2 linked regions of the Homo sapiens genome follow. The protein of the gene in region 1 purifies or fractionates together with the protein of each later gene. This does not show direct contact. Each region holds a gene or a part of one and is shown on either strand. Other genes may lie near its edges.

Region 1 (12,132 bases):
TTGCAATGGTAATCTAGGCTTGTTAAGTCTTACATCTTTGCTTTGACTTCAAGATACTGTTTATATTTTTTGGTGCATCCCATCTCTACCTCTTAACTCAGAGCTACTACTAGAAGAAAAGGTATCTCTGTTGCTATATTTAGCTGTGAATTGTAAACCTGAAGCCAAGGCCACTCTTTTTTAATTAGGAAAGAAAGGAGTCAAAGGGAAGTGAAGAAGTGTTAAAACTCATTAAAAGAAATAAATTTCACTTACTAACAAAGAGGAAATAAAGTCATAAATTGTAAAAACAAAACCACAATTATTTCACATTATATGAAAGGAAAGTATTAAATAATGCATTTTTTTTTTTTTAGGAATCATCATAGCAGGGAGTTTTTGTGCCAGAGTAACCAGCATTTTATCTGAAAACCCAAATTCTATTCTTGATGACCATTGAGTCTTTCTCAATTGGATGCTGAGAGGCAAAAGTATAAATTATGCAGGCTTCGACTTCCACAAAGCCCCAGCTCCCTTTTAGTCTTTGTTGCTCATTTTTAGCTTCTGCCTCTTGTGGTTTGCTTGGGTAATAAAAAGTAAAGAAATGTGGAGGAAGTTAACTCATTTTCAGCAGAATTAATGAGGCTTAATACCAAGCCAGTGACTACAACATTCATCCAAAAAGGCTCAGAAAGAATAAGACCCTTAGATTGAATCATCAAGCTCTATCCCTTACCTTACCTAAAAAGTTTCCTTAGTTATTAACCTTTAAAGCAGTTGAAACGTATTTTTTCAAGGTAATATCTAGCTTCTCTTAGTAGCACATAACTTCCTTATATTATGCCATACTTCCATGCTTCCTACATGTTAATGTTCACGTGAATCACCTGGGGAGTTTGTTACACTGCAGATTCTGAATCAGTAGGTCGGTGATGTGGCTGAGACTCCGCACTTCTAAGTAGCTCCCAGCTGATGCGGATGTTGGTCCAAGGACCACCCTTCCAATGGCAAGGTCCAACACAATGACTTTGATCTAACCTGATAATCAAAGTTAAACTTCACTTACAATACAAATGATTCATTAGGTAAAGGCATTTAGATAGATTTTACCAGAAGCCTATTTTTTTCAAATATGTTTATATTAGTACAAAACGATAAATTTCCCACAGACCCAGAGCATTAGAGTAAATTGACCGGGTAGACAATAGTAGGTTGTAAACAACTGAAGAAAAATGTTTCAGAATTAAAAACATGGTTTCATTACCTGAATTGGTACTTATTTTAGACACTGGCAATTTCTCCAAGAGCAGTTTCTATGAACTGGGGGATGCCAACCTGGTAGCAACCTGATGATTCCTCATGCTAGTAGCAAAGAAGGACTTCCACCTTTCCTACAATCGGACAAAGCCTTTATGATGGTTTTATACAAGGAAGCATAAAATCTCCACCCAAGAAATTTAGGGCTATGACTGGTATCTCCCTGTAGCCACCCGTGGCTTAGAACCTTAATCATGTGGTAGACTGAACATTCCAATTCTTTAAGCACCAGGCTTGTCGGGATTCAGAACACTGAAATGACATCCATATGCAGACAGAATTAATTGCACTGAATAATTTTTATTATTGTAACTAACATTTATTGAAGGCTTATTGTGTGCTAAACACTTGACAGTCATTACCCCAACCCTCTGAGATAGATACAATCGCTATCCAACTTAAAAATAATTAGAAAAATAAGATTAGACAGGGTAAATAATATGCCCATACTATCAGAATTACAAATGATAATACCAGGACTTGAATATAAAATGTCAGATCATAGTTCCTATATTCTTAACTGTTGCTAACAAAAATGTTTGACAAAGCCCCTGCCTGTGTTTGCTGCCTGAAGTGACCTCTTTATTCATTTCCCCCACAGCTTCAACAATTTAATTACACCTGGTTAAGACTTATTAAATGTGGAGAATGGTGTATAGCCCCCATCCCTGATAAAGGAGCCGTAAGGCTGCACCCTTGTGATAACAGAAACAAAGGGCTAAAATGGCTGCATAAATCAACATCAGTCTTTCATCCAGAACTGGTAAGCAAAAGATTGGTACCTCTTCTTTACCACAAATTTGACTTTTGATCAAATAGGACATAAAATTCTCATTGTCACCTTCCTCAGTCAGAAGTTTTGTGTGTTTGTGACCATGGGATTATGTAAAAGTTCATTCACAGAGATGCATGGATATCTTTCGAAAGTTGACAAGTCCTTTTTTTTTTATTTTTCAAAATTTATTTCAAATGAGTTATTTTAAATAGAAATCACCAAGTTCTTCTAGTTGCATTGCTATCATTTGCTTCAGTCAATCAACAACACCGAAAGTCAGGCTTAAAGGCTAGAACTGGTCCCCACTGGTCATCAGTAATGCTTATAAGGAGAGGATATGGGCAACACAGGAAGCAGCATGTCTCCTACAAGTCCTGCACTTTAGAGTGAATCTGGTTCCTCATTCTGCCCCCTTTCCATAAGAGACTCTTCCCATCCCCTGTGGTACCCAGAAACCGGGGCTTCTAAGGGTCTGCTGGAGCCAACTCTCACCAGCTCGCTGGAGCCACTTGTGCACACCCTTGCCAGCTTTGCATTTAATCATACCACATTGGTAGCTGGAAACTGGCCATATTGGGAGTATTTATACCACAGAAATTGGAAGATGTTACTGGATCAGGGATACTTTTCTGAAGGTCCAGTTGTTCCATTTACCAGAACATTCCTGGTCTACTGTATTCATTCTCAAAGTCCTCTCCATTTGTCCCAATTACATTTTAACAGAATACGGAGTCATAAGCCTTGGTGTAGGAGCTTGGGATTGGCGAGAATAGTCTCAGAATTGCCTTCTTAAATTTTCTACAATCTCTCCAGCAGGTAGCCACCAAATCTACTGTCTACAGTAAATATTTGGGTATTTGGAGACTCTCAGTTTGTCCTGGGCTATCCCCAAAGTAAGCACCTTTGCTTCCTTTAGGTGCCTCCGTTCCTTTTAACAACACAATGACTATTCTTTTCTCAACATTTTTCTTCCTGCTCAGAGCCAAAACTGGGGCCTGAGTAATGTATTCTCCAACATTTCTCCCATTAGATCTTCTCTGTTGTATTTCAATTCTTTCTGAACAGTTTTTTCTCTTTAGTAATAATGGTTATTATTGAGTTATTCAGAAAGATTAGGAATTATTAGCATATATGCCACTAATTTTATTTTGCATAGTGTTAGGAAATCCATAAACATGCAGTGTAGTGAATAACTTACATCTTACCTTCTCCCTGTGCCAAAGTCAGGAGGGAGGGAAGGAGAAAGGGGGGGATGTGGTAAGGAGAGAGAGAGAGAGTGAGAGAGAGAGAATATGAATAAGAACGAGAACTAAAACACATTCTTCATCTCCAGAATTGAATCTTGGGAAAGAGTTCAAGCATAGCAGTTTCTCTTAAGCGGTAAGCTGATTTGGTAAAGGAGGTAATTTAGTTAAGATAGCAAAAATTAGAAAGCCTTTTCCCTACCTTGTTTGTACCTATGACTTTGGAACATTTTACACAGCTGCCTTCTGTCTTGGGTTTCCCTTTTGATGTTACCAAATGTCCTGGAGATGAATAGCTTGGTGATCAGCTTTCTTCTTTTTTCAGTTTTTCAGTAGTTTTCATGCTATTGCTACTAGGTCTCCCATTATATGTAAGTCTTAAACAACAAGAGAAGTATAAAATGAGACTTCCTTACAAATCCTTGACAATACTCAAGCATCGTATTTCCAAAATCCTGCAAGGGTGACAATACTTTTGTAGCAGCAATCTTTAAAATAAATTATTATGAAAGTCACCCCTGTTTGATAACTTTTTAAAGTTTAAAAACAACATGTGTAATTAAGATTGTCTTTGTCATAGTCATACGTAATTAAGAAAATTTATAGATGAAAAAATATATAAGCCATTAGTAAGGTCTATCTAATTTATCTACCATTTCTAGGATATTCACTAAATATTAAGCAATAATATAACTTTCTTTAATGCTGTTGACTTTTTCCTAATCTGGATTTTGGACATCAGTTATTATGAATTGTCAGAGATTATGGTAAGGAGCTCATAAATAAAATACATCACTTCCAGAATTTTGTAATCCAAACTCACAAAGACACCTACTTTAAAAATTAATTAACTTTTTGTTACGGTATGTATTCTTTCTTTACCATCAATGAAGTAGTTATCATCTATCAAATCCAATAAATGTCATCTGTAATGTTTTCTCTTTAAAGAGTATAGTTCTCAGCCATATCATCAAGAAATTTTTCTTTTGCCTCCTGAGGACTTAAAAGTCTTATAGCTTGGTGGAGGATGATTACTTAGTCTGAGACAGAGACAAATTTAATACTTTTCAAAGTCTGTGTTTATGTTAATAATTTAGTTCAGAAGAATTCTTAAAAATCAAAAATATAACTGCCTGTCCATTTTTTTAATTGATTTTCATTTCTTCATATTGCAGTTATCAAATTCAGCCTGTGGCTCATTCCCAGCTCTTCTTTCTCTCCAGGTGAATCACATTGTTTTTGAAAACAATCAGCAATTATTATGCTTGGAAGGAAATTTTTCTCAAAAGATCCTGAAAGTAGCTGCCTGTGACCCAGTGAAGCCATATCAAAAGTGGAAATTTGAAAAATATTATGAAGCCTGAAGTGTAACTGATGTTTTTATATAGTAAACCCATTAAATACTGTGAAAATAACACTGAACTTGGAAACTATATTTCTCAGCGGTAGTTTAAATTTTCAATTTTAATAACATTTGAATGGAAGATTTTTTATAAATCACAATATTTGGAATACCAAAAGATGACTCAGGAAAACAGTCCAACATTGGACTGAAGTCCTTCTTCGGAACTGGGTGGCCTTTGAATTGCCTGCTTTCCACCCTATGCTAGACCTCATCATGCAAATTTCCCTGTGAAAGCTAACAGGTAACTGGAAATGAAGACAGAAGGACTTGAGAAAGCATGAGGATATTCCCAATGACTATGTTTGGTAATAATCAGCTCTTCTGGCCCACAAGTAGGAATGATCAATGAGAACTTAACTTAGTCCTTTATTTGGGGATTTTTTCATCAAACAAAAATTTCTTGAGTTCTTATGGCTAGAAGACCTCAGATGCCCACAGCTGTCACGTTTGTGAAATCCCTCCAGACTACATGCATGCTTACCTAACAGTTTGAAATAGTATTGATCTACTGCTGGTAACCCTGCTTGATGGCAGCATTTTGATCTAAATTACATAATGGTTTTTCCCAATCTGAATCAGTGGAAAAAAATTTAAGTGAGGAAGAAGAGGCCTTCAAATGCTTATTTAATTCTAGGTATGAACACTATTTCAGTTCATTTTGTGCTTTTAAAACTACAGTTTTAAAGATTTATGATACCAATAACTTCCTAGATTCATGTGGATTTTTTTTAAGGCAATGAAAAAAGGCTGGATTATAACACACTGTAGTAATCAAAAATGCATTTAAGCATTGAATGCACTCTAGTGCAGGGCCAAGTAAGAGGAGTTGAAATGAGTAAAGCAGAAATAGAGCTGCTGAAAGTTTCTTTTATATAAAAATAATAAAATACTACTTTAGATATAGTAGCATTCACAGGGATGAAATATGCGAAAAATGGGTTCTAAAATATTTCAAAGGGAAAATGAAGTGAAGGAAACATCATGAAAGGGGAAAGGAATGAGGTAAACAAGTCTTAGGAAGAGAGTTAAGAAAAAATTCCGCTGGACTTGGCCAAAGAAAGAAGGGGATCTAGTATCTCTATGAAGGAAAAAAGAGTAAAGCCCTCAGTGTGAACCCAGTGAGAACACTGACAAATTTGGGAAAAGTTAAATACTGATTTCATCCAAATAAAGCCTCTAATCTTAAGCATACCAATACTTTGGCATACCAGAAGACACCTTAGAAATCAGGATAGCCTTTGCATTCATTTTGGTAAGAAAACTGATGCTGAGAGGATAAATTACCTAAAAATCTTAAAACCCAGGCAAGTTAGTCAAAGAATCAAGATTAGAATTCAGGTTTCCAGAGACAGGGCTCATTCTAATGCCTCAGGTCACTGGCCCGAACAAATCTGCTTCACAGAATTCCTTAGAAAGAGATACACAATTCTTTGCTGGGATTGGGTCCCTGGAGGACAACCATACTATATTCTTGTTAATATGTTTTTTCTTTTTTTAAATTTAAACTTTTGTTCAGTTGAGATGATTGTGAAACTAGGTATCTTTCATTCTGACTCCTAGTTTAACATTTAATTTTGACTCCCAATGAGTTACGTAAAAGCAAAACTATAACTAAGAATGGGAAAAAGAACTATTTCTGCACATTTGTAACATATTTAAGATGTTTTCTTCATATAATTGAAAACTGCAGATGAGTAAGAGAATGACTAGGAAATGAGATACAGTTATATGACACATAATGATGTTTTAGTCAACAATGAACCACATATTTGACATTGGTCCCAAAAGATTATATTAATAATATGGTATCTTTAGTGTGCTTTTCTATGTTTAGACACACAAATACTCACCATGATGTTACAATAGCCTACAGTGTTCAATACAGTAACATGCACAAGTTTGTAACCTAGGAGCAACAGGGATTCCATATAGCCTAGGTGTGTAGTAGGCTACCTACACCATCTAGGTTTGTGTAAGTACACTCTGATATTCACACAATGATGAAATTGCCTAATGACACATTTCTCAGAATGTATTTGTGTTATTAAATGATGCATGACTCTAATTCTTTTCAAAACAGAGCCATATGGGGCAAGGGGGATGGGGGGACGCAAGTCAGTTGTCAAAAGACTAATTGAGTTACTGACAAACTGAACATGCTAGGTGCCTCATGTAATTCTTCATGTAACTAAAAAATGTTGAGAGGTTTTTTTCCCCCGGGTATATAGGCTCTCTTTTTATCCGAAAATAGTTTCCACAAAGAAGTCAACTCTGTTCTGAAAAAAAATGAATTGCATTTTGAATACACTTATCTTTGGGTATATCAACTAAAGGAAGTTGGATTTTTTTCCTTAACAGAAACTTCTGCAGTCCTCTCAGTTCACATCCTTTCTGACTTTACCCTGACAAACTTATTATATAAAGCTATATTTAAATCTATATTGTCAATATAACAAAGGATTGTTTTTGAACATCACAAATTTGTTCTTGGATAGAATTTTATACATTGCTTTTCATCATATATTTGCTCAGTTACTCTAAGAAGCAAGGAACTGATCACTAGTTGGGAATCTATATGGGCCTAAACTTGAGTGTATTGATTTATTATTACATCTACTACCAACATTTTCTTAAGCATAGCCTTCTAAATTTTTTCAGGAGATTAGAATAAAGGTATACATGCTACTCGGTCTTCTGGTAATTCTAGTGATAAACCTTTGGATGAGACAGGTCCTAATCAGCACTGAATTCTTCAATAGGAGGCTGTGTTACAGGAGCTACAGATTTTTCCCTGGATTAGCTTAGGTCATTGCCTTTACTTTAAAAAAAAAAAAAAAAAGTCTATGCATCTTGTTACCTTGAATACAAGGGTGGTCTTGATAATATTTGACAGCACTAACCAACTTACCAAGCCATCTAAGTGCTTCTGAGACTTTTCAGTTTGCACAATTTCTTTCTCCTTTTCAACAGTTACCCAGCGCTTCTGCCCTACTCTCTTGTAAGCTGACACAGTTGTTGTTGGTACAATCTTGTTCTATCACCAGCATCAAATTTGCTTAATACTGCTTGTTGACATCCCCTCAGCTGTCATTCACAGCAAACCACCATGTGCCATGATCACAATGTATTATTAGCTTCGCCACACTAATTTGGAAACATTCTTTTAGATATTAAAACACCTTACTTCTAGTATTAGTTTGGGACTGCAGAGGGGCAAAGATACCATTTACAGTATATAGGAGTCCAATATTCCCAACCAACCTTGATTTCATGAATGGCTTGTAATTATTTCTAGCAGGCACTCATGCAATAGAATAAGATTGAAACATGCCAGAGAGTACCATCTTTCTTTGTTTTAACATCTCTGATTGAATTCCTATATTCAGAATACAAGAAAAAAAATTTACCAACCAGGCGCAGTGGCTCACACCTGTAATCCTAGCACTTTAGGAGGCCAAGGTGGGTGGATCATGAGGTCAGGAGTTCAAGACCAGCCTGGGCAACATGGTGAAACCCCGTCTCTACTAAAAATACAAAAATTAGCTGGGCATGGTGGTGGGCGCCTGTAATCCCAGCTACCTGGGAGGCTGAAGCAGGAGAATTGCTTGTACCCGGGAGGTGGAGGTTGCAGTGAGCTGAAATTGCGCCACTGCACTCCAGCCTAGACAACAGAGCAAGACTCTATCTCAAAAAATAATAATAATAATTTTTACCTCAGAAGAAAGCCCCAAAATCTTGGATTAAAACAAAAAAATGACATTGGGTGATGGGAAAAAAGAAAGGAACTAATTATCATTGAGTGTGTGTAGGTACTATTTGTGTAGGTGCTATATGTGTCCCATCTCACTGATGGGTACAACTCATCAAATGACTCTCATTCTCCCTGTTATATGAACAAGAAGGATAACTCCCACATACAGATGAGGAATTTGGTAAATTGCCCAAGGTCATCCCACAAGTAAGAGATAAAACCCAGTTTCCATTTTATCTGGCTCAAAAAAAATTTCTCTCACTATACCATGCTGCTATATAATTAATTTTCTTCTTTACAAAGGGCTGTCATCTCAGGTGGGTGCATTTAAAAGTTTCTTGGTCTCAGATTACTGATGCCACAGTATTGAGATGAGATTGAATTAAACCCCTTTGGCCTCTTTTGGATGTTGTATAAACAGAAAAAAGAAGCATGGTCTCTCTCTCTCTGTGGTAACCAATTGATGTGTAGGTATAAACATGGCTACCCCCACATGTTTTGCTGTGATCTATCTCTTTGACTTCATGCAGAACCTATTCTTTTTCATCTCCTGGACCAAATGTGAAAGAAAGAAGTGGACATGTGGAGGATTCTTTCTCTGTGAATAATATTGAAAAAGCTCCATTTTCTGGGGAAATACCCATGGTTCATTGTCTGATGCCAAGAAAGAATTCAGGACACAGACACACATGAGGAGTGGGTTTAGGAGTGGAAAGTTTAATAGATAAAGAAGAGAGTGAGAAAGCTTCCTCATGTTGAGAAAGACAGTTGCTCAAGAGAGGGTTTTCTGGGTTTGGGGCAAGATTTGATTGATTTCATACAGAGGCTTGAGGAGGCGGTGATTGATATACATAGGGCCCGGGGATTGGTTTAACCAGGTATACTACTTACATAGCCGGTGAAAAGACTGGCCCTCCCACCCTAACCTTTTATTATGCAAATGCATCTTCTACCTGGCTGTCACCATGACATTTGCACACGTGGCTTCACTTCACCAGTGCCATGTCACCCACACACCTGGTGACAAGGAAAAGGGAGCAGGAATCACCATATTGAATGTGCCTGGCTTCCAGGTACAGCTGCTAGCTTTACATATGGGAGCCTCTAGCTTGCATATCTATACTTGCAACTTGACTTTTCAGGCTGCTTTTTGTTAGAAAATAAGTGGCTTGGGGGCTGCTTTTTATTAAAGGAAAAATCCACCGAGAACTATTTTACCCTTTCTAATGGCCTAAAATAAATTTTTAATGACTCCTGTATTAATATTACCAACCCTTGATCCCTCCAACCTTTAATCAAAGCTAGCAGATTGCTCATCTTGAACAGAAATAAAAAGTTAAAAAGTTGGAGTCCTTTAAAACACAAACCATGACTTTTTATTCCTACTCATTGTGTAGGTTGTCACTACTGTGCTTTTGCAACAACTTTTGCATGGGTTACTCAATAGTTGCTACAAGACAAAATGCCTTACAATTAGAAAAAAAAATTAACCAGAGATATTGTACAAAATATTTATTTTTTGACAGTTTTGAATAAGCCATATAAAGTATTATATATCCCTAATGAAGCTTAATGGATAGTATTCCAGGTGTTGGTGGTGTCTGTATCTCAAAGAAAGAAAAAAATAACATCACACTAAACAGATTTAATGCCTCTGTTTTCAACCTAATGGAACAATAGTTATCATTTCAATTAGAGTCGCTTTGCAAGTTTATGTGAATCTTTGCTTTGTAAAAACACATACAAAACACAAGGGAAAATTCTCATTTTCCAGCAAATACAGCAACTTCTAATATGCTGTTTCTAATAATGAGTCACCATCAAATAAGTAATAAATATTTTTTTCAAAAACAAGAGCTTTCTGTTTTATTATTGATTGACAGATATTTACCAGTTTAAGGATATTGGTCATAAGCATCTATATAATAAACCCTTTATATTAGATGTTAAATTAAAATTTTTCATAGCATGAATAGATTTTTAAGTGACCACTCAAAAACATAGCAATTTTTGTAAATATACTGTATGTGTGTGTATATATATATATATATATATATATTTTTTTTTTTGATGCTTTGATCTGGAAGAAAGAAATATCAAGAGTTTCTATTCACAACATAAAGAAAATAAAATGTTTTTAGATATTTTTAACTCTTTCAGGTGTATAGCTTTGTCTGCATCTGGCCTTCTGCACAAAAGTATCTCAAGTGAACTTACACTCTGGATACCATTTTCCAAACTTGAAGGAGTAATCAAGTTCTTAATTATCAGGGTGCTTGTTATTTAGTTGAAGATTACACACATGTCTTCTGCTTCAAACAACTACCCCAAATTTGCTAGTTTTATACATATTAGCTTAAAAACAAGAGAAGCCAAAGATTAAGTAAGTGAATTGTGTTAAAGATTGCCTGAAAACATTTGCTAAGGGGAGAATAAAACTAAAACTGTGGAGTATAAAGGATGTTGGAATTAAACATTTTTAAGTACTTTTTCTTTTGCATCTGATCGACTGAAGTTATTATAAAGAAGGAATCAAGTATGTAACTTTAAATTCTAGGTAAACATCCAAATTACTTTCTAAATTCATTTCCAAAATTCTCCTGTGCTGGCAGTTAGCTACTAGAGATCATCATTTGATTTTGTAGTTTGCCATGTTCTGAGTGAGTTCAGCTGCTTACTACTACCCATGTCATTGTGTTTGTATTGATTGCCTGGCTCAGTTATCTCATGTTCTTCATGAACTATATACACATTTTCATTGTCTTTAAACAATACTGAGTTTTGAAGTTAAGTAGAATATTGTAGGGGTTATCAGAAACCCATATTCATTGTGGTATGTTTCTGTCTGATACTTTAATATTGGTAAATATAGTTTTTGACATTGCATTTTACAATCCTATTGTTTTTTAGAGTGATGAAAGTTCAAGTTTTAAGAGAAGTGGTTGCCTTTCTCATACTGTCAAACATATTTCTTCTTTATTATACTCTGGTGCTTTATCCTTCTCCATAATTCTCTATTATTACTTATTTTAAATGTTTTCCCTATCACATTGAAAAACTTAAATGTCCGTTCTCCATTTGAAAATATGCCAAAAGTATGATCCCATGTAAATATGCAGAAACGATTGCTATGAAAATGTCAGCATAGTTTAAATGTATTACTCTGATGATTACAGAGATTTCTTCAAGTTGTTCGTGTTAAGATGCATCTTAAACATGATCTCAGTTCCTTAAAAAATGATAAAAATTTTTCATGTATATTACATATCTACCTACCAGAAATCCTTTTTACAATTTTATATACAATCATTTTAAGACCTTTTTGAAATAAATAATGCAAATGAACTAAAATAAAGTGTTCTCTTGATTTCTGAAGAGGTATTCATTAATTATCATAGTAGCTGCTGATATACAAGGATTCTTTCTAAAGTTTAAAAGGCAGCTAAACAAAATAAAGTCTAGAGACCAGAAATAAAGACACAAACTTTTATTGAGAGTAAGTCAGACACAGCAGTTCTTTATTTAAATTGTGGATAGTTTGGTAGGTAGGGGGAGAGAGAGATGGTAGCAAATTCTGTGCCTTCAATGTAGCATTATATGAAAGGTAGATTTTATATTGGCAGAGAAATAGAGCTATTATTAGTTTCTATTTATCTAGCAA
Region 2 (12,132 bases), on another chromosome or scaffold:
GGAGACTGAAGCAGGAGGATTGCTTGAGCCCAAGAGTTCAAGACCAGCCTGGGCAACATGGTGAGACTCCATCTCTACAAAAAAAATAAATAAATAAAAATAAAAAATTAGCTGGGCGCAGTGGCATGCACCTGTGGTCCCAGCTACTCAGAAAGCTGAGGTAGGAGAATCGCTTGAGCCCAGGAGGTCGAGGCTGCAGTGAGCTATAATCACACCACTGCACTCCAGCCTAGATGACACAGCAGCACCCTGTCTCAAAAAATCAATAAATAAAAATAATAGAGATGGAAGTACTACTGCAGGAATAATGGTTGATGGTACAAAGACAGACACTCAGTGGCTATTGTGACCAGACACCACTACATACTAGTGAGAGATTTTGGTACTCACTGAGGATAAATTATATCCCAAATCTTTAATACTCTTCATGAAAGAGTAAGGAAAAAAATGAATGCAAGGAAATCAGTGATTTCCAGGAAAGTGATAGAAACTATGAGAAATGTCATGAGCCATATTGCTTGAAGTTACTAAATTTAAAAATCACTTTCTTAAGGATATGGATTATTTGAGAAGATGTAGAAACTAATTGTCCTCAAAAGTAAAATCTCACCATTTTCTCCATTTCTCTTTAGTGACTTAGGACACTAATGCTAATCAAGTGTTCTCCTAAAAGGCATCAAAGATGGCCAGGCGAGGTGGCTCACGCCTGTAATCCCAGCACTTTGGGAGGCCAAGAAGGGTGGATTACCTGAGGTCAGAAATTCGAGACTACCCTGGCCAACATGGTGAAACCCCATCTCTACTAAAAATACAAAAATTAGCCTGGCGTGGTGGTGCACACCTGTAATCCCAGCTACTCAGGAAGCTGAGGCAGGAGAATCACTTGAACCTGGGAGGCAGAGTTTGCAGTGAGCCGAGATCGTGCCATTGCACTCTAGCCTGGGCAACAAGAGTAACACTGTCTCAAAAAAAAAAGAAAGAAAGAAAAAGCATCAAAGACACGGGGATAATGTTTTTGAGAAGGAATGAGGGTTAGAAGGTGAGTAAATGGCTTTCCTCTTCTCAGCCGTTCCCTCAGCACAGGAGCCCTTGGTCAATGGAATACAAGTACTCATGGAGAACTCGGTGACTTCATCAGCCTACCCAAACCCCAGCATCCTGATTGCCATGAATCTGGCCGGAGCCTACAACTTGAAGGCCCAGAAGCTCCTGACTTACCAGCTCATGTCCAGCGACAACAACGGTGAGACATCTGAGCCGCTCGCACTCTCCCTGAATCTCACACATCACATACCACCTCCAGATTCCAACTCAGCGTCCTTCCCACCCCAATGCTGCCTCTGACTGTAAATAAACTACCCAAACACCTTTCCTTACATACCTGGAAGGTACCTGGAAAGAAACATGTGTGAAGTCAGAGCATTCATGGAGGAGGTCAGTAAAGCAGGGAGAGCTCTGGACTAGACGTCGAAAGAGCAGCCTTCTGGTTCTGGCTCTGCCACGTCATAACTCTGGGATCTGAGACAAGTCACTGGATACTGCTCAGCCTCACCTTGCAGATGATTGTAGTAACAATAACCCTACTACTACTAATAGCAATGATAATAATAATAAAATCTCTGTTCTGCCTATCTCCCAGGAGCTGCCTGCAGGCTCAAGTTAGATAAAGTTTAAATTATTTTGCAACTGTAAATTTCTGTATATAAATCTATATGAGTATTTTGCTGCTTTTCTAATCAAATACCAGGGATTCTCAAATACCAAATACTAGAGTCATCAAGTTACACAGAGGCCACTAGATTAAATATTCCCTTACGTATTCTTCCATATTTTTTTCTTTGGAAAGACAGATCAAAGAACTGCTCATATTATTAAAAAGTCAAAATGCTCTAGATAAAAAGCAGAGAACTCATCACTGGCTCCTGGAGAGCTGTCCCCTGAGGATGTCTCTGTCTAACCGTTGTGTTCTCTTCTCTGCAGATCTAACCATTGGGCAGCTCGGCCTCACCATCATGGCCCTCACCTCCTCCTGCCGAGACCCTGGGGATAAAGTATCCATTCTACAAAGACAAATGGAGAACTGGGCACCTTCCAGTAAGACCTGACTGGAAGGGAGAAAAGAGTCAGGCATATGGTTTTACCTAAGAATTTTAAACCCAGAAAGGAAAAGGGTGGGGGTGGAGAGAAAGGCAAGTTAGGGAAGAGACAATGTATCCTTCACTCTGGTCCTTCTGATAATCCAGACCAGAAAGATTCATTTCCAATCCAAAATGAACTAGAAAAGGTCATGATCCCAAGGACACAAGCTTGTCCAGCCATCACCTGTCTAAAGACACAGAGTCATCCCTTTTATTCTTTGCAGATGCCTGATGACATTCTTTTGAAAAACACTGAAGTTGCTCTTTGCCTATGCTGTGTCTCTCTTTGGGGGCAGGTTTTCTAGCAATTTCCTTTTCAAAGGCTTGGCTTTTCCTTCTTTGCAAATGTCCTCATCGTGGTGACTGTGAGTCTGATGAAGGTTCTCTATCCCCTTCGGAGGCCCCAACGCTGAAGCATCAGCCTTCTATGGGCCCAGTCTAGCGATCTTGGCACTGTGCCAGAAGAACTCTGAGGCGACCTTGCCGATAGCCGTCCGCTTTGCCAAGACCCTGCTGGCCAACTCCTCTCCCTTCAATGTAGGTGAGTAGGTCACCACTACCCCGAGCTGGGAACATCAGAGGCATCGTGAACTGAATGGTGGAGCTGGCAGGGAAGTGACAAAGGAGAGCGTCCCATGGAGGAGGAGCTAAGGATGTGAACGTGCCTGTGGATGGGAGATATTTACCAGATGTTTGTTGGGCAGGTGAATTGAGGAGTAAGTGAAGGAAGAGGGGGTAGTATTATGTAGAAACAAGGACAATTGATAATACTTGATATGTCTGGCAGCTACAGAATCTCCGCTGGGAACAATAGTAATGCCATTCAAGTCAGAAGTTCTTCCCAAATTAAATATGAATGTCTTGCTTCAGTTCTCCTCTGCATCCTCTCTTTAATCACTACTGATGCTCCCACACTCCATTCTTTTCGATGCTTCTCCTCATTACATCCAAATATCCTCTCTCCATTAAACAGCTACTCTCGGAACCCTAACTCGTGATATTTCCCTTCATGGCAACTCGGGGACCACCTTGCGTCTTTGTTCTGCAAGCATATGGCTGCTTGTGAATAGAAGCTTTTCCCTCTACAACATCATGTCCTCCTTCTGTCCCCTTCTATGGATAATGATCCTTCTCTGTGGGGGCCACTGTCACAGCCCGCATTCATGATCACCTTTTCTCCTCTGCCAACTCTCTAAGCAATAGTATTATCTCAGGTTTTCACTCCCTTATGCATGCCCCATCAGCAACCTCTCTTGTTTCAGTTTCTGTCAGACAAACAGGTGAACCACTGCTCTAGGATCCTCCCTGGGGGTTAAGAACAGACTGGTCTCCCTTTCACATCTGGGACCTCACACATTTCTGGGGCATCTCTGCCTCCAAAAATTTGGACTTATTTACTTCTGGTTGTCAGTAACACTAGCACCCTTAACGAAGTTATGCAACTTTCAAATGGAGATTTGGCCCTGCTGCTTACTTAATTTTTCTGAGCCTCCATTTTTTGTCTCTTAAATGGAGATGATTACAGGTACTGTTTCACAGGTTGTTCTGAGGAGCAAATAAAATCATGGAGCCAGAATATAATAAGCACACAATAAATGTTAGCTGTTCATATTGCTGTGATGGTGACTATGGTGATCTTATACCCTCTGTCATTCACAGACACAGGAGCAATGGCAACCTTGGCTCTGACCTGTATGTACAACAAGATCCCTGTAGGTTCAGAGGAAGGTTACAGATCCCTGTTTGGTCAGGTACTAAAGGATATTGTGGAGAAAATCAGCATGAAGATCAAAGATAATGGCATCATTGGAGACATCTACAGTACTGGCCTCGCCATGCAGGTAAACACGTGCTGGATGCTCTTGGTTGGGTTCCTGCCAATAAGCCTGGATTGCAGAATCAAGAGGCCAGGCTTCTACTAACATCTCTGTGAAAGTCCAGCTAGTATGACCTGAGATATATTCTTTGTGGTGCCTGGGCCTCAGTTTCTCTACTGGTAAAATGCAGGTAAGTGTTAATTCCTCCCTACCTCCTATGTAAAGTGTGAAAACAAATCTATATGAACTTGTTTCTCTTTCTTGGGAAAAAAAATGAAACAAATAAATCAAGAAATATATTAATTTATTATTAATAATGATCAGTTTATTTGTAATAGTTACAGACTATTACAATTTTGATGTATAAATAATAAGAATATTAAAGCAGGCCCTCTAAAAATATACAATTTTCTGATGCAATCTTACCAGCCAAGTGTTCTTTTTCAGTGTTTTACCTTGATCTAAAAATAGCAAGTTTATACTCAAAATGATTAAGGAAAATAACCTAAAGTTGACCCAGCCTCACAAAAACCCATAGTAAATGGTAAAGCAGATCTATCTGTCAGCCAAGTCCATATTCAATTCTGTGCTTTCACAGCATGCATTCCCAGGCTTGGATTCTGTAAGATGTGTTTGGTATTCATAGTTCCAAATCCAACAACCCACCCTACCCTAGTTGATTAGGGCAGCAGCCTCCATAGAAGACAGATGCACCAATGGTGGTGGGCAGAAATAACCAACTAGAATCAGAAACTAGCAACCATCTGTGGCTGAATCCTCTAATCCCAACTAAGAAGTTTGAGCTCCAGTGTCTCAAAATGTCCTATGGGGATTAATAGGACCAGGGACTCTTCAACTCAGAAAGCCCACTAAAGGGAGAATCATGGAATGGTGATGCCAGCCCTAAACCTAACATAGTTGCGGACTATTAGAAAGAAATTGTCTCCTGGGGAAAACAATGGAGACTAGTATTGAGATTTCATACATTAAAAATTAGAAAAGGATATAAGCAGCCTAAGAATTGGTTCATGTTAAACATAAGAGCAAAAAAAAAAAAATTTCCACTTCAATGGACCACATATAGAAGTGACTAATAAAAATAGAGTTCATTTCTATGTCACAGTCAAGGAGACTTTGTCATAGAACAAAACCCTGTTTTTTCCATGGCTGAATTTTACAAGAACATTCCCAGTGCTCTGGTCTAGAAGCTTTTTGGAAAGAAAAAGGCAGTCTGGAAGAGATATAAAAGATGGTTTGGGGATTTTTTTTTTTTATGTGTGACTCTCTAAAAATAACCTTGCTTCAATTTATCACCAGACAGTGAAGTGTTTACTTTTGCTAACTTGGTTTGTGAATTCTGTTTGGATTTTATCACCTGCCAAGTACACTTTGATAAGCTGTACCTGGGAATTAGAGCTTTTCCTATCAAAAGGCAGGACCCTGTCTACATCCAAATACCACAGGCCATGTGGATTTCTTGTCAGAATACATAATCTCTCCCTACCCTTTTTACTGCCTCTATCTGGAACTTATTTAGGCATCCTGAAATCTGGAATCAATAGGTGTCTAATATATAATATTTTCCTAATCTAAAATATTCTGATATAGAAAATCAAAGGGCTCTGGAACTATCACAATTTAGGTTTGACTCCCACACCTGCCACCATCTCAGACAAATATTGAATTTCCCCAGATTTTATTTTCCCCATAATAATAAGGTTGCAATTAGGTTAAATAAAATGTGGTATGCAAAAAAATGCATGCATAATGTAATGCTTAACAATTGTTCAAGATCTGTCTCAGCAGAGCAGTGATGCTAGTAAAGTTCCTTTTCAGCCTTTGTTCACCTTCTTCCAAGATGTCAGTACACTTCCAGTGGCCCAGGCCACACTCTTCCCTACCCAAAGACGCTCATGAGGCATTTCCTCTGTTCCAGAACTTCTCATCTTTCTTCCATGAATATCCTATTGCTTTCAAGTTTCCTCTGATAGGCGCTTATCTTGAAAAGGGATCTGATAGGCCAGGCGTGATGGCTCACACCTGTAATCCCAGCACTTTGGGAGGACGAGGCGGGCAGATCACTTGGGGTCAGGAGTTCAAGACCAGCCTGGCCAATATGGTGAAACCCCATCTCTACTAAAAATACAAAAATTAGCCTGGTGTGCTGGCAGGCACCTATAATCCCAGCTGCTCAGGAGGCTGAGGCAGGAGAATCACTTGAACCCGGGAGACGGAGGTTGCAGTGAGCCAAGATTGCACCAATGCACTCCAGCCTGGGCATCACAGCGAGACTCCATCTCAAAAAAAAAAAAAAAAAAGAAAGAAAGAAAAGAAAAAGAGAACTGATAAACTTCTTGATGGAAAGTTATTAATGACGTCTAACCACTTAATGTGTTATCCTCTCTAGAGTGTTGGCATTGGTGATGTGTAATCCCAATGAATATACCTTGCTTAGTGAAATTTGGGAGGTGCATATGACAAGTGGACAAGATATTGTTGCTGAGGAGCACCCACCTGATGGCCCTTAAAGCAACTGCCTTGTAAAGTGGCCTCTGTCCAGAGCCATGCTTCATAGATGCTGAGGTTCAGTGATGGTTGTCCCTGTCACAACTGCCCAGTTGTGCATACTGACCCTAGCTGAGACAGCCGTTTCTGACTCCTCTCTCTCTCTTCTCCCATTTCCTATTCCAAGCTTCAGGTGAACCAGTCATTAACAATCTCAGCCTATTAACATGCTCTGGTGGCCATAATCGCACTGTAAAGGAAGGGAGGTGGTAATGACAGCTTCCACATCACACATCACACATCACGAAATGCTTTTATACATTAGCCCCTTGGAACCGCAAATGACTCCCCCAACAATAGACAGAAGTTATTATTTCTATTTTATTCATGCGATAGATAACGCAGCAAAATAGGTGAATGGCTGAATGGCTTGGTGTATTACTCAAGACTCATTTTGCAAGTAACAGAAACCCAAATCCTTTTAGCTCAAGAAAAAAATGAGGATTTACTATTCACATACACTGGGAAGTCTAGGGCTGAATTAGGTGGTTTCAGGAATAACCAGAATAAAGGGCTCAAATCATGATATCAGGAGCCACTCTTTTTTCATCGTCCAGCCCTGATTTTCCTCATTCTTTCCTGCTGCAGGGCTTCTTCAAAGTGGCTGAGAAAGATGGTCACTAGCAGCTTACCGTTTATTTGCATGGTCCCAGTTGAATAACCTTAGCAGGAAAAAAAAATCTTTGGGTGTCCCAATGTCTGTATGTCGGGGAATGATTCTGATTAGTACATGTGTCCACCAATCACTGTCATCAAGGGGATGGTGACCACCATCAGCCCAGTCCAGGTCATGAGTCCATCCTGGGCCAGGGTTGTGGAGCCTCTGAGAGTCCTGACACAAGCACAAAGTGAGGGAAAAGTCCATCAAAGAGGGCACATGGCAATATGAAACAAGGGGTCTACTCCGTTTATGTGGCTAGACTGTCCTAGGCTAAAGCTCCCTCTGGAGCCCAGCTCTCACCCTCACTCTACATTCAAGAGTCGTTCGTAAATATGACTGCCTAATAGTGTTCCCTGGATCTGATCATTGCACAGTTCTGTGTCTGCTGTCTGACAGACACTGTGCTAAGTGGTGGGGACATAGCATTGAAGACAAATGTTTTCCAAACCTTACATAGCATTGGCTTTGCATTCTGGGTGACTACGTGATCACCATGATTAGTGATCAAGTTTATCTCTTAAGACATGTAAGAGCCAACTCTCAGCTATGCCTAATTACTCTTTCTCTCTCTTTCTGTCTTCCTTCCCAGGCTCTCTCTGTAACACCTGAGCCATCTAAAAAGGAATGGAACTGCAAGAAGACTACGGATATGATACTCAATGAGATTAAGCAGGGGAAATTCCACAACCCCATGTCCATTGCTCAAATCCTCCCTTCCCTGAAAGGCAAGACATACCTAGATGTGCCCCAGGTCACTTGTAGTCCTGGTAAGACATCCACCTCTCCTTATGTCATAAAGCAGCAACTTATGCCAGAAATGACATGTGGATCAATGTTAAGTGGCATATAGGCTTGTAATGTCCATTATTCCCATGTGGGCAGAGTACATCTGACTCCCAGTCCTTAAGAGTGTGTGCTAGCACACAGACATACCTTCCTGCACTCAGAACTCAGCCCCATATCTACTTCATTCAGCATATATTTACCTAGCTCCTACTATGTGCAAAGCATTTTGTGGGATACTAGAGGTAGAAGAAGCTCCATGGTCCCAGCTATCAAACAACATATAGCTTCATTTATTCATTTCACAAATGTACCATCAAACACTATGCATATCTTATCATATCTGCCTTTCACAAAGTCAGAAGACAGATGTGTAAACAAAAACTACAATATTTGGGACAATCGAGTAAGTATTAAATAGAAGTTAAAGCCACACACAGTGCAAATGCCAAAAAGAAAAATAGTGACCAGTTGTTGATTTTGTTTGGGAGGCTTCAGAGAAGAACAGAATTCATATTTAAATCGAGCCTTAACGATCTAAATATGAAAGCTCGATGCACGCAATATATCAATGAGATGGAGTGGAAACCTAGCATGCCACTTTTTAATTAAAAATATCTTTATTTTATCCAATTATGCATATAATTGAAAGACACTAAAAATTCAAACATTACAGAAATATGCATTTGGAAAGTGGAGGTCTTGCATAAAAACTTATTACTCCAGAGATTACTAGTGTTTGGTATGGATTCCTCAAACTCTTTTTTTTTAATAAAATGCTAACACAAAGCATCATTCCTCTTGCATTGCATGAACTTCCTAAGACAAGAAGCAATTAATAAGTTTCTCGTCTATCTCAATGCAGAATGTGGAGACCAAAATCAAGCAAACTGATCCCAATCCTACCAAAAACTACCACATTCACTCAACCCCTTAGGCTGCTTCCCAGTGATGTCCCAACCTTAACAAGGTGGCCATGGAGTTTTTGCCGGAATTCTATGCTAGTTGTCCAAGTACTTTGTTAAATGGTATGAAACTCACTACTTTCTCAAAATGTCTTCTGGGGTAAGTTGCCAATAACAGAGATTTTGCACCTATGATACAAACCCCATAATCTTTGACAAATGTGGCCTCTTTGCCCTTCACAGATCATGAGGTACAACCAACTCTACCCAGCAACCCTGGCCCTGGCCCCACCTCTGCATCTAACATCACTGTCATATACACCATAAATAACCAGCTGAGGGGGGTTGAGCTGCTCTTCAACGAGACCATCAATGTTAGTGTGAAAAGTGGGTCAGTGTTACTTGTTGTCCTAGAGGAAGCACAGCGCAAAAATCCTATGTTCAAGTGAGTATTACAAATGTCATTCATCATTCTCTCAAGGCCTGATCTGAATTCCCATTTTTTATCCATCCTGTTTTCCTAATTTTTTTCCTTTTGATAACAGATTTTTATTTAATAGCGCTTGAGCAGCTTTCAATCTAATAAATAGGTAAGGCTCTCATGAAAACTTAAATCATATAAGTCAACATATGATGAAGTTTTAAAAACAAAAATTCAGAGGAGATTCGAAAGTCCATTGCAGAGTAGAACAGGCAAAAGAGACTTTGTAGCTTTGAAACACAAAGAATAGGTACTATTTAGGAAGATGTGGGAAGAGGTAAGTCCAGAAAAAGAAATGGCCAGAACAGGCCGGGCGTAGTGGCTCATGCCTGTAATCCCAACACTTTGGGAGGCCCACGCCTGTAATCCCAGCACTTTGGGAGGCTGAGGCATGCGGATCATCTTAGCTCAGGAGTTTCACCAACATGGTGAAACCCCGTCTCTACTAAAAACACAAAATTAGCCAGGCGTGGTGGCACGTGCCTGTAATCCCATCTACTCGGGAGGCTGAGGCAGGAGAATCGCTTGAACCTGGGAGACGGAGGTTGCGGTGAGCCGAGATCATGCCATTGCACCCCAGCCTGGGCAACAAGAGCAAAACTTCATCTCAAAAAAAAAAAAAAAGGAAAAGAAATGGCCAGAACAAAGCATTTGCGATAAGACTGAGCAAGGAATTTGGGGCCAATGAATAGGCCAGGTGGACATACCAGGTTGGGTGACAGTGTAAAAGTCTTGAAATACCAGGTTCAGGAGACTGAACTTCATTTTGCAAGTTTTTGAGTAAGAAAATCCACTTGGTAAAATGTTGCTTAGGTCGTGAGAATAGGAGACAAGGCTAAAACATAGGACATGACTCCAATAATGGAGGTGTGAAGTGACGATGACTTCCTCTGGGATACACGGACCCACACCAAGGCTCTGTGAGTGATGGGACATAGAGGTCAAGAGAAAGAAGCTTCAAAACTATTGATTAAAGGGTCAAGAAGAAAGAATATCTTTCAAAGAAAAGGATTAAATTCCTTAGATATGTTTAATGGTAGGCATTTGAAATAGGAACATTAGAAGGCTTTTGGCGGTATAGTCCAGGCACAGTGGCTCATGCCTGTAATTACAGCACTTTGGAAGCTGAGGCGGGTGGATCAGTTGAGGGTAGGAGTTCGAGACTAGCCTGGCCAACATGGCGAAACCTCATCTCTACTAAAAGTACAAAAATTAGCCAGGCGTGGTGGTGCGTGCCTGTGGTCCCAGCTACCCAGGAGGTTGAGACGGGAAGATTGCTTGAGCCTGGGAGGTGGAGGTTGCAGTGAGCCAAGATCGTGCCCACTGCTCTCCAGCCTGGGAGACAGAGTGAGACTCTGTCTCAAAAAAAAAAAAAACAAAAAAAAGGAAGGAAAGAAGGAATTGAGAGAGAGAAAGAAAGAGAAAGAAAGAAAAAGGAAGGAAGGAAGGAAGGAAGGAAGAAAGAAAGAAAGAAAGAAAGAAAGAAAGAAAGAAAGAAAGAAAGAAAGAAAGAAAGAAAGAAAGAAAGAAAAAGAAAGAAAGAAAGAAACAGAAAGGCAGGCTTTTGGAGGCATAGAGGAAGTACTAGGAAAAGAGGTCAGGACATGCAAAAAATAAATTGGACAGTCATCTCTTAGAGGTGATGACCTAAGTCAAGAACCCATGCAGTAGATAGCAGATACTTGCACCCAATAAAACCATAAGACATATTTAGTTATTCTCATTTTACAGATAGAACCCTTAGGCCCAAAGAAGTTAGTAACATTCCTAAGATCACATAACATGTAACTAATAGAGTTGAGAGTGGAACCCAGGTTGGACTGAATCTGATGCTCATGTTCTTTCCATGCCCCTCTCAAGGTAGGGGAAAATACAGAAATAAATCACAGAGGAGAAAATTAACTTTTAGGGCATGTTTATAGTTTGCAAAAAGAGGAAGCAGTAAAGAAACATGGAGAAGTCTAAGCTATAGGAGGAGAGGAGGAAAAATGCCAAGTCATGGAAAGGAAAAAAGCATCTTTTCTTTTTCAAAGAAAAGATGATCCAAATTCTTCAGGAAGATATCAAGAAGGAATACTGACAAAGGCTAAGGAATTGACAACTGAGTGATACCACGTGGGTATCTATTCCACCCGGTTCTGTTGAGCACATTGTGTCTGCTGCTTACTGCACGACTCCATAACTTCCCTAACTTCCATAGACAGGTCAGGATAAAAATTGCACTTCAAAACTATTTAATTTTTTTTTTTTTTTTGAGACAGAGTTTTGCTCTTGTCACCCAGGCTGGAATGCAATGGCGCGATCTCGGCTCACTGCAACCCCCACCTCCCGGGTTCAAGTGATTCTCCTACCTCAGCCTCCTGAGTAGCTGGGATTATAGGCACCCGCCACGATGCCCTGCTAATTTTTGTATTTTCAGTAGAGATGGGGTTTCAGCATGTTGGCCAGGCTGGTCTTGAACTCCAGACCTCAGGTGATCCACCCACCTCAGCCTCCCAAAGTGCTGGGATTACTGGCGTGAGCCACTGCGTCTGGCCCAAAAATATTTAATTTTAAAACCCTCTGAATATACCGTACTTTACTTCTCTGAAGTTAGCTTTAATTTTGCCTAATTTTTCTTTTTCTGATTATAAATGTATTAAATACATAGAGCAGAAATTTTGAGGGAAAAAGCAAAAAGAAGAAAAATCATCTATAGTCCACACACAATATCACAATTGTTAATATTTTTTATAACTTTTGTAGGTTTTTTTCTATGCATATTACAAATAGGTGTGATCCA

Evidence for each region.
Region 2: the proteins of GALNT5 (region 1) and CBLIF purify together in Homo sapiens (affinity purification with mass spectrometry; 2 studies listed by BioGRID and IntAct, with this or other methods). This does not show direct contact.

What each region holds. Positions count from the first base shown.
Region 1 is NC_000002.12:157,306,670-157,318,801, forward strand, and holds the end of GALNT5 (polypeptide N-acetylgalactosaminyltransferase 5), read left to right. Parts: intron 1-1,897; coding exon 1,898-2,059; intron 2,060-4,490; coding exon of another isoform or gene 4,491-4,538; coding exon 4,539-4,679; 3' UTR 4,680-11,822; downstream 11,823-12,132.
Region 2 is NC_000011.10:59,832,990-59,845,121, reverse strand, and holds part of CBLIF (cobalamin binding intrinsic factor precursor), read left to right. Parts: intron 1-1,066; coding exon 1,067-1,243; intron 1,244-1,980; coding exon 1,981-2,094; intron 2,095-2,538; coding exon 2,539-2,679; intron 2,680-3,797; coding exon 3,798-3,979; intron 3,980-7,770; coding exon 7,771-7,948; intron 7,949-9,112; coding exon 9,113-9,314; intron 9,315-12,132. UniProt on the Homo sapiens protein: Promotes absorption of the essential vitamin cobalamin (Cbl) in the ileum. After interaction with CUBN, the CBLIF-cobalamin complex is internalized via receptor-mediated endocytosis.